Linked DNA regions of Homo sapiens. The protein of the gene in region 2 interacts with the protein of the main gene of each other region in a pairwise test. Each region holds a gene or a part of one and is shown on either strand. Other genes may lie near its edges. The genes, in order: NEK2, SPTBN4 and PFDN1.

Region 1 (3,654 bases), on a different chromosome or scaffold from region 2:
AAAATTTTCTCCTCATTTTATCACCCTAATCATGATTTAAGTCTATTTTGTCTTTATGGATGACAGTGTGGAATCTATGAAAAGCCAGAATAAATATTTTTATAATATTGAAATGGTAGACTGCAATATTGGGAAAAAAGAAGGTATTTTAACAGAGATGAAGCCAAAGTTTCATATAATCCTTGTTTCATTTACTTCTATCAGTAGTTTCATTTCTTTCCATCACTTATTCACTACAAAGTTATTGTGATCATCAATCTAACTTAAGTAGGGTTTTTTGTCTGTTCCATTTACAAAATGCTGCCAATGCTCACTAAATTGATCACACTACATCTCAATTTATTAAAGATGGGAATAATAGCTTTCATATATGCTGTCCTACATGGAATAAGGGAGTTATAAAAACTCTAAATTTTATTGAAAATTCAGATGCTCGATTTTTGAAACCAACAACTTTTAACAGTTAGTTTGTGTCATAAATCAAGCAAAAAGATGTTTCACAGTTTGCATTTTACATAATCTTAAAGAGTCGATTAAATTAGATTGAGGGTTTCTATAAAATGGAGAATGTTAGACAATGGTTCACTGGTATATACGATAACCACATCTCAGTGCGGCAGAGTGAAGGGACAATGCCACACAAAGGCAGGGCCCTGAGAAAGCTGAATATCTATATACCAGACTTTAAATAAAGAAGGAAATGCAGAGAACATATGTAGATATTAAACAATCAAATTTCAACAAATATGTCTTTCAACTTGAAAGGGTGTTAGCAAAGATCCAAACGTGACAGCCTATTCTGCAGGTGGCTTATCATGCCTTTTAAGCCATGCTTTCTATGAAAAATGAGGCATGGCAATATTAAAATGTTTATTTTTACTTGAAATGCAGTTTATCTCTCTGAAATCTGAAACATACAATAGTTTTGTAAATGCCCTAATTTTTAAAAATAAGTATCGGCTGGGCACGGTGTCTCATGCCTGTAATCCCAGCACATTGGGAGGCCGAGGCAGGCGGATCACGAGGTCAGGAAATCGAGACCATCCTGGCTAACACGGTGAAACCCCGTCTCTACTAAAAATACAAAAATTAGCCGGGCTTGGTGGCGGGTGTCTGTAGTCCCAGCTACTTGGGAGGCTGAGGCAGAAGAATGGCGTGAACCCGGGAGGCAGAGCTTGCAGTGAGCCGAGATTGTGCCACTGCACTCCAGCCTGGGCTACAGAGTGAGACTCCATCTCAAAAAAAATAAAAAAATAAATAATGATAATAAAAATAAGTATCAATTACTAAACATGTAGTTTGATAAGGTAAAGAAAATCAAACATGAAATTCTATGACTCATTGCCTCAGGTCTATGAACCCAGGAAATAAATCATTGCTATAACAGAATTTTGTTTCCATTGAAATGCATATATTCAATGAAATCCATCTTAAAATTTGAGATTTGTAAATGAAAAGGGCTACCTAAGCCACTTTGGGAGCAACACTGGTGCACATTTCTTCATTTGTAGCACCAGCTTCTGTTGACCAAGTTGATTCTCATACCTGGATTACTTGCCAGAGACAGGAACTTCCGTTCCTTTAGCAAGCTGTAGTTCTTCAACAGATTTTCTGCTCTAGCCAGTTTGTCCTCTGCTAGTCTCTCACGAACACAAAGCTCCTGTTCTTTCTCTTTAAAAAGAGAATGGACAAAGAAAAAAAAATTAACAACTGACCTTGACTAAAAAACAATTTACATTTGGCAATCTTATCACTACTAGCATGCCTGATACTGATAAGCAATGTTTGGGGAAAGGATTCTCACTATGCCTCAGTCAACCTGATTATGTTAGTTTTTAATTGAGTGTTTTAGTAGGCTGTATGTTATCTTAGATTTTCTTGAAAGGACTTGTTTAAACAAATACAAAGTTAGCTTCAACCTTTGGTCATCTTTTGTGGGAGTAACTCATTTGGGAAAACAAAAAACTAAAGCTATCTCTGCTCTTCACTGAAGATAAGCAACAGCTAATTTTCAGGGCATGATCTGGCCTCACAGTACAAAAATCTCCTTCTTCTGGTTGAATGACCACACCCAAACAAAAGAAAAAAAACACAATTCAGTTAGGTGGTAGTTCATAGGATTAGTATTAATAACAAATGTTACTATTTATTCATGGCCCCAAATTCAGAAAGTATTCAGATTTCAGTTGCTATATGAAATTATGGCTGGTCACAGTGGCTCACGCCTGTAATCCCAACACTTTGGGAGGCCGAGGCAGGTGGATCACCTGATGTCAGGAGTTCAAGACCAGCCAGGTCAACATGGCAAAACCCCATCTCTACTAAAAAATCAAAAATTAGCCAGGCATGGTGGCAGGCGCCTGTAATCCCAGCTACTCAGGAGGCTGAGGCAGGAGAATTGCTTGAACCCGGGAGGTAGAGGTTGCAATGAACCAAGATGGTGCCACTGCACTTCAGCCTGGGCAACAAGAGTGAAATTCCATCTCAAAAAAAAAAAAGAAAAGAAATTATGAAACACTGGGGAAAGTTATAAGAAAAAGCTTTCTTATTTTTTACAGAGGTTTCCAAGTAAGTATAGGTTGTACCTATACAGTAAGCATATCTCACAGGACTATACAATATTTCATTATTTAAAGCCTGGATTGGGCATAAAGCTGCAGAAGTAAAATCAGGTGAGTCATGAGGGTGACAGGTCACAAATACGACCCCATCTCTCGTCTCCTGATGTTAAAATGAAGAACCTCACTCTGTAGCTACCTTGCATAACCCTAAATGCTTGCGAGTAGCTCTCATCTTGGTGGAGTAGACACACTTTCAATATCAAAACTAAATTAGCATCTAATCAGTTAATACTCATAAGTCAATGTTAATACCCACCAGAGTATTATTTATAGACTTAAAATATCTTGTATCTAGATTCTCTATTGAACTGCCTGAACAGACCAGGTGTGGTAGGTCACACCTATAATCCCAGCACTTTGGGAGGTAAGATGGGAGGATCACTTGAGCTCAGGAGTTCAAGACCAGCCTGGGTAATATAGTGAGACCCCATCTCATTTTCAAAAATAAAAAGTTAAAAAAAAAGAAAAGAATTGCCTGAACATATCTCATCTACATACTGTAGGGTTTTAGACCTGGAATTCTGTTGGAGTGGCCATTTCAAAAGACAAAAGTCATGGTTTTTTATTATGGAAAGCAGCAATTTTAAGACCTTCCTTTACAGTGGGAAAACATTAGGGTATTCACAGTAGAGACGAAAAAGAAAAAAGTAACTCTAGAGTAAAATACAAGGCTATCGTATTAGGGCCATCACAGTTAAGGCCCAATAATATATAACTAGCAACTGATCTCAGAGAAAGATGTCCAACATGAAGGTGCCAGCAAGCCTGATTATTAAAAAGTCTAAAATACATATTTTGGTTTCTCAAGTATTTTTCAAAAGCTTCTAATAAGATCTGTATGTATAAAATATTCTGCTCAAAGAGATATTCAGACACATCAAAATAACCCACTTGGTAGTTCTCCTTTGCTTTGACCCCCATTCAGACTTACGCTCCAATCTTTCTTCTCTTGCTTTGAGAGCTCGCTCTCGCTCCTGTAACTGAATTTCCTTCAGTTTCAGCTCACTCAATACAGGGCTGGAATCCTGCGATT
Region 2 (3,654 bases):
CAGCACTTTGGGAGGCCGAGACATGTGGATCACCTGAGGTTGGGAGTTCGAGACCAGCCTGACCAACATGGAGAAACCCCGTCTCTAGTAAAAATACAAAATTAGCTGGGCGTGGTGGCACATGCCTGTAATCCCAGCTACTAGGGAGGCTGAGGCAGGAGAATCGCTTGAACCTGGGAGGTGGAGGTTGCGGTGAGCCGAGATCGCGCCACTGCACTCCAGCCTGGGCAACAAGAGCGAAACTCCGTCTCAAAAAAAAAAAAAAAAAAAACACCAGGCCAGGTGCAGTGGCTCATGCCTGTAATCCCAGCACTTTGGGAAGCCAAAGCAAGTGGATCACTTAAGATCAGAAGTTCAAAACCAGCCTGGCAAACACAGTGAAACCCGGTGTCTACTAAAAATACAAAAAGAATTAGCCGGGTGTGGTGGCGGGCACCTGTAGTCCCAGCTAGTCAGGGGGCTGAGGTAGGAGGATGGCTTGAGCCGGTGAGGTGGAGATTGCAGTGACCCAAGATCTCACCACTACACCCCAGCCGGGGCAACAGAATAAGACTCTGTCTCAAAAAATATATATATAAATAAATTTAATTAAAACTAAATAAAATTTAAAACTCAAAGGCTGTCACATAGCACTGGCCACATTTCTAGCATTCAAAAGTCACAGAGACTAGTGATTATTATATGGTACATTATGGATATAGACTATTTCCACCATCATGGAAAGTTCTATTGGACAGTGCTGGTCTCTTTTCCCACCCTCCCAGCCACCAAGGTTCTCGGGCACCCTTCCCCCTTCCCCCTCCTCCTCATCCCACCCCAGCCCTCCTCCAGGTACCTGCCAAGGCCTTGATCCGGGAGCACTCAAAGAGCGAGGCCGCTGCGGTGGACGCAGCCGGCTGCTCCCGCTCCCAGCCCCGATCCGGACTCTCCCAGCGGGCAGCAGGGTTGTTGTTAGGAGCAGGCAGGCCCTCCATGTTGTCCACTTCCCCTGGTACCTGCGCCATCGGGGAAGGTGAGGCCTGGACATAGGGAGAGGTAGGTTAGGTCTAGGATCAAGTCTCATTTCTAACAGTGACTGGCTTTGAGTCCTGTCCCCTCTCTTGTCCTCAATTTCTCTGTCTTTAAAGTGGACATAATAACAATGATAAGGCCTAGGCACAGTGGCTCATGCCTGTAATCCCAGCACTTTGGGAGGCAGAGGCAGGAGAATCGCTTGAGCCCAGGGGTTGGAGACCAGCCTGGGCAACATAGCAAGATTTCATCTCTATAAAAATAAAAATAAGCCAGGCGCAGTGGCTCAGGCCTATAATCCCAACACTTTGAGAGGCTGAGGAGGGCGGATTGCTTGAGCCCAGGAGTTCGAGACAAGCCTGGGCAACATGGTGAAACCCTGTCTCTACAAAAAAATACAAAAATTGGCCAGGCACGGTGGCTCACACCTATAATCCCAGCACTTTGGGAGGCAGAGGCGGGCGGATCACCTGAGGTTGGGAGTTCGAGATCAGCCTGACCAACATGGAGAACGCTGTCTCTAATAAAAATACAAAATTCTCCAGGCGAGGTGGAGTATGCCTGTAATCCCAGCTACTCGGGAGGCTGAGGCAGGAGAAGCGCTTGAACCCGGGAGGCGGAGGTTGTGGTGAGCCAAGATCATGCCATTGCACTCCAGCCTGGGCAACAAAAGCGAAACTCTGTCTCAAAAAAAAAAAAAAAAAAAAAATAGCTGGATGTGGTGGCAACGTGCCTGTAATCCCAGCTACTCAGGAGGCTGAGGTGTGAGGATGGCTTGAGCCTGTGAAGTGGAGGTTGCAGTGAGCCAAGATAGCGCCACTGCACTCCAGCCTGGGCAGCAGAGCCAGAAACTGTCTTTTAAAAAAATTTAAAAATTAGCCAAATGTGGTGGTTGCCACCCGTAGTCCCAGCTATTTAGGAGGCTGAGGCAGGAAGATGGCTTGAGCCCAAGAAGCCAAGGCTACAGTGATCTATAATAGTGACACTGCACTCCAAACTGGGCAATATGGCGATACCCTATTTCTAAATAATAATAATAATAATGTTCACCCTCACCACTTCACAGGATGTGATAAAACACATGGCTTAGCCCCTGGCACATATTAAGGGCTCAGCAAATTGTCACTGTTATTATTAGAACAATAGAGTTCTGTAATGCAGTAATAACAATAATGAACATATTGAACACTTGCACTGTGGTCAGTACTTCATGTACCTTCTCTTATTATTTCCACAAATTTAATTCCCTAACAGTTGGCTATTATTACACCTATTTTACAGAGGAGGAAACTGAGGCACAGAGGAGTTGATCTATTTTTCCAAGGTTACACAGCCAGTTAGTATCTAGGATTCAAACATAGATGATAGGGCCAGGCGCGGTGGCTCATGCATGTAATCCCAGCACTTTTTGGGGCTGAGATGGGTAGATCACCTGAGGTCAGGAGTTCAAGACCGGCCTGGCCAACATGGTGAAACCCTGTCTCTAAAAATACAAAAATTAGCTGGGCGTGGTGTCACACACTTGTAATCCCAGGTATTCAGGAGGCTGAGGCAGGAGAATCACTTGAACCTGGGAGGTGGAGGCTGCAGTGAGCCGAGATCATGCCAATGCACTCCAGCCTGGGAGACAGAGCAAGACTCCGTCTCAAAAAAAAAAAAGGTGATAGAATATTTGCATTAATGGGGCTGGGCACAGTGGGTCCTGCCTGTAATCCCAGCACTTTGGGAGGCCGAGGCAGGCGGATCACGAGGTGAGGAGTTCGAGACCAGCCTGGCCAACATGGTGAAACCCGGTCTCTACTGAAAATACAAAAATTAGCTGGGTGTGGTTTCGGGCTACTGTAATCTCAGCTACTCAGGAGGCTGAGGGAGGAGAATCGTTTGAACCCAGGAGGCGCAGGTTGCAATGAGCTGAGATTGTGCCACTGCACTCTATCCTGGGCGACAGAGTAAGACTCATTCTCAAGAAAAAAAGAAGAAGAAGAAGAAGAAAAATTTAAAGTGGAGGGGGCAGGCACAGTGGCTCATACCTGTAATCCCAGCACTTTGGGAGGCCAAGGCAGGCAGATCGCTTGAGGTCAGGAGTTCAAGACCAGCCCGGCCAACATGGTGAAACCCCATCTCTACTAAAAATACAAAAATGAGCTGGGCATGGTAGTGCATGCCTGCAATCCCAGCTACTCAGGAGGCTGAGGCAGGAGAATCGCTTGAACCTGGGAAGGCAGAGGTTGCAGTGAGCCAAGATGGCACCACTGCACTCCGGCTTGGGCAACAGGGCGAGACACCATCTCAAACAAAAATAAAAAAATAAAAATAGGCCGGGCACGGTGGCTCATGCCTGTTATCCTGGCACTTAGGGAGGCCAAGGCGGGTGGATTGCCTGAGCTCAGGGGTTCGAGACCAGTCTGGGCAACTTGGTGAAACTCCATCTCTACTAAAATACAAGAAATTAGCCAGGCATGGCATTGTGCACCTATAATCCCAGCTACTCAGGAGACTGAGACAGTAGAATCGCTTGAACCTGGGAGACAGAGGTTGCAGTGAGCTGAGATCGTGCCACTGCACTCCAGCCTGGGCGACAGAGTGAGACCCCATCTCAGAAAAAATAAAATTAAATTAAATGAAAATAAAAAAATAGAAAAC
Region 3 (3,654 bases), on a different chromosome or scaffold from region 2:
GTTTCAGTGTTAATTTTTAAAACTTCTCCATATTTCCACCCTCATCAGTGGTAAATAATGTGCCTGATGTAAAATGGAAAAAGTTGAAAATTTCCACTTGTACATTTTGAGCTTTTCAGAGGTACTATATACACTCTGGAAATAATAATAAAAGATACTAAGGCTTATACAGTGCTTTTTGTTTGAGGAACTCATATAAACACTAATGCATTGATCCTAACACAGTGCTTGATTGTGACTTTAAAAGGTCATGAGTTACTGCTGTTACAAAAAAAAAAAAAAAATGGAGGGGCGCTCCACTTTACAAATATAGTTTAAAAAATATCTAGATAAAAATTGAAACAGATAACTGAAAAAACAAAACTTATAGGGTATTTGTTTGTATGTTGACTTTTCTCTTAGCGTATGATATATTTTTATTCCTTTATTATTTTTTCTTTTACATATGAATCTACTTGAAGCCTGATTTTCTTTTCTTTTTTTTTTTTTTTTTAATGTTTTTAAGACAGGATCTTGCTCTGTTACCCAAGCTGGAGTGCAGTAGCACAATCATGGCTCACTACAGCTTTGATATCTCAGTCTCAATTGATCCTCCCACCTCAGCCTCCCTAGTAGCTGGGACTACAGGCGTGTGCCACTGTGCCTGACTAATATTTTAAATTTATTTTTTGTAGAGATGGGTCTCATCATGTTGCCTGGGCTAGTCTTGAACTCCCAGGCTCAAGCAGTCCTCCTGCCTCGGCCTCTCAGAGTGCTGGGATTACAGGTGTGAGCCACTGTGCCCAACTCCCGCAACCCCCCCGCTTTTTTTTTTAATGAGACAGGGTCTTGCTATGTTGCCCAGACTAGACTCAGACACCTGGGCTCAAACAATCCTCCCACCTCAGCCTCCTGAGTATCTGGGACTGTAGGCCCACACCACTGTTCCCTGCCTGATTCCTATATTAAATAAGAAAGCAGAATCTACTTTTAAGCCTTTATTCCTTCTCAGCCAAGAAGGTTTAAACTTCTGGTGGTTTCCTGAGCTTGACGTATTATGTTAATATGCATTTGTCCTTTTAATTTGCTCAGTTTAATATTTGTAGTATGTAGCTATTGATTTCGATGAATTCAATAGTCATGTGGCTTAATTTTCAACTTTCTTGTGTTTCATAGGTTTATTCTTCAGTCCAAGGAAGCAATTCACAGTCAGCTGTTAGAGAAGCAGAAAATAGCAGAAGAAAAAATTAAAGAACTAGAAGTAAGTTTTTATTGGCAATAGGAGTTAACTTTTGGGAGAAAGTAGTAATCTTATTGTGTCATATTAAATGAAAATGTATGCCTGCCTGCCAAAGTAATGTCATATTATTTTTATTTTCTATAATTACGTTGGAGCCGTGAAGCTGTCATATTCATATTCATAGCGCATATAAGACCAAAACAAAAAAAAAAGAATAGTCTCTTCTTTGGAACTGCAGAGAATTTTGATGAGATGGTTTTAACCTGAATGTATTTTGTTCATTGCCCTTGAATGTGTTTATTCTTTAAAAAAAACAAAACCATAAACAAAATGTAATGTATATTTAAACAACACTTGTGTAGTGGATTGTGGTGGATGGGCAGGAGAGTGGGTAATAATGATAAATTTTAGAGGATCTTGGTATAGGGTCTTTTTTACACATTGTAATTTCTTTAACCTAAATTAGGTTCTATATAAGGACAAAGTAGCAAGCTATAACCAATTAACTATCTGAAGGATGGTGCTCCAATGAGAACAATTTTTTCTTTTTAGCTAGGGAAAAAGATGATAGGTAACAGTAAGCAAATCTTTGGAAATATTACTTTATTATTTTTATTATTATAATTTATTTATACATTAAGACCTTTAGTGAGATATTCTTCTTGGGCTTTGGTGAAAGGCCCATCCTGTGTATAGTAAAAGTTAGACTGGACAAAAAGCTGGTTATTTCTTAGGGACCAAGATTTCCCAACATGTGGGTGGATACATTGACTTCATAGGTCATTTCATCTAATTTCTGTAAGTACTATTTGAGGCAGAGGATCAGAATCTAACTCAGCCCTCTGCTGAATTTGGGAGCTACAACTTGTAGCCTCCTGAGGATTTCTTAGGGGCACTGAATTGGCCTGGCCTGGGAGTATGCAGTATCTTAGGTTACTTAGGCTTATTTTTAACTACTGATAGTTGAAACAAACTTGATAATAGATTTGCAGCTTAGAAAAGTGTATTGTAAAAACAAGACAAAAAAGCAAAAAAACCAAGTAAAGAAAAAACAGCCTGTGATAACCAGATTGTTGTTGTGTCCTATTTTAACATTTTAATCAGCTCAACTGTTCTAAGAGGTTCAGTTTGATATCTGTGTTTTCACTCATAAGAAACAAAAGTATCTTTAAAAACCCAAACAGAATCATTTCATGTAGATAAAACAAAATGCATTTTTGCAACTGTAGGTAAATATATTTAAAATTATCCTAATGAATAATAAGTAGCAAGGTAATATGTATATAATTCTCTTTATGAAAACAAAAAACAAACATTTGTGTATGAATATTGAAGATGATATGTAAGGATATATATTAAATTGTTAATACTGTTTACCCTAAAGAAATTAGATGGGACGTAGGGATAAATGATTTTTTCTTTTTCTTTCTTTCTTTTCTTTTCTTTTCTTTTTTTGTTTTTTTTTTTTTTTTTTGAGACGGAGTTTCGCTCTTGTTGCCCAGGCTGAAGTGCAATGGTGTGATCTCGGCTCACTGCTACCTCCGCCTCCTGGCTTCAAGCGATTCTCCTGTCTCAGCTTCCCAAGTAGCTGGGATTACAGGCATGCGCCACCACGCCCTGCTAATTTTGTGTTTTTAGTAGAGATGGGATTTCTCCTTGTTGGTCAGGCTGGTCTCGAACTCCCGACCTCAGATGATCTGCCTGCCTCGGCCTCCCAAGTGCTGGGAATCATAGGCCACTGCGCCTGGCCTTGATTTTTTTCTTACAATCTCTGTAATAATAAATTATAACAAGTATACATTAACTTTTTTTGTTGTTAACTTTCATGATTAAAAAATTAGCAGAGTGGGCACAGTGGCAAATGCTTGTAGTCCCAGCTACGGGAGGCTGAAGCGGGAGGATTGCCTGAGGCATTCCAGCCTGCGCAACATAACAAGACCTTGTCTCTTTAGGGAAAAAAAAAAACACAAAAACCCCAATTATCAAGGTGAAATTGCCACAGGTGATGATTTTATCAATACCGTACTGCTGAGTTCTGGTGAATATTAAGAAATTTACTTTCTGCAAGTTTCCTTTTGTTGAGTGTCTCAAATACTGGTAGAATGTTTTATCTTTTAGGAAGTTCTTTTTTCTTTTTTAATTTTTCATTTTACATGTTACTTACATTATAAAAGCAATAGAAGTACACCATAAATAAAATATAAAACAAATGATTAAACAATGAAAATATTACTTTGTTTTTCCACCCTCGGTACATCCAAATGTCACCTCTACGGTTTCTGTATCATTCCAAACTTCTATATTTATATCAAGACATTCATACATGCATATATATACACAACCTTTTTTTAAAATAGGAATTATGCTATATATACTGTTTTCCATCATTTGACAGTTTATCTTGCTACTTTAGTAATATAACTCCAGTTTATATA

What was found.
Region 1: the proteins of SPTBN4 (region 2) and NEK2 interact in a two-hybrid assay, tested with the Homo sapiens proteins (one large-scale study listed by BioGRID and IntAct).
Region 3: the proteins of SPTBN4 (region 2) and PFDN1 interact in a two-hybrid assay, tested with the Homo sapiens proteins (one large-scale study listed by BioGRID and IntAct).

The regions. Positions count from the first base shown.
Region 1 is NC_000001.11:211,665,561-211,669,214, forward strand, and holds part of NEK2 (serine/threonine-protein kinase Nek2), read right to left. Parts: coding exon 3,553-3,654; intron 1,672-3,552; coding exon 1,546-1,671; coding exon of another isoform or gene 1,502-1,545; exon of another isoform or gene 857-1,501; intron 1-856. UniProt on the Homo sapiens protein: Protein kinase which is involved in the control of centrosome separation and bipolar spindle formation in mitotic cells and chromatin condensation in meiotic cells.
Region 2 is NC_000019.10:40,469,972-40,473,625, reverse strand, and holds part of SPTBN4 (spectrin beta chain, non-erythrocytic 4), read right to left. Parts: intron 1,020-3,654; 5' UTR 1,005-1,019; coding exon 836-1,004; intron 1-835.
Region 3 is NC_000005.10:140,279,035-140,282,688, reverse strand, and holds part of PFDN1 (prefoldin subunit 1), read left to right. Parts: intron 1-1,155; coding exon 1,156-1,240; intron 1,241-3,654. UniProt on the Homo sapiens protein: Binds specifically to cytosolic chaperonin (c-CPN) and transfers target proteins to it. Binds to nascent polypeptide chain and promotes folding in an environment in which there are many competing pathways for nonnative proteins.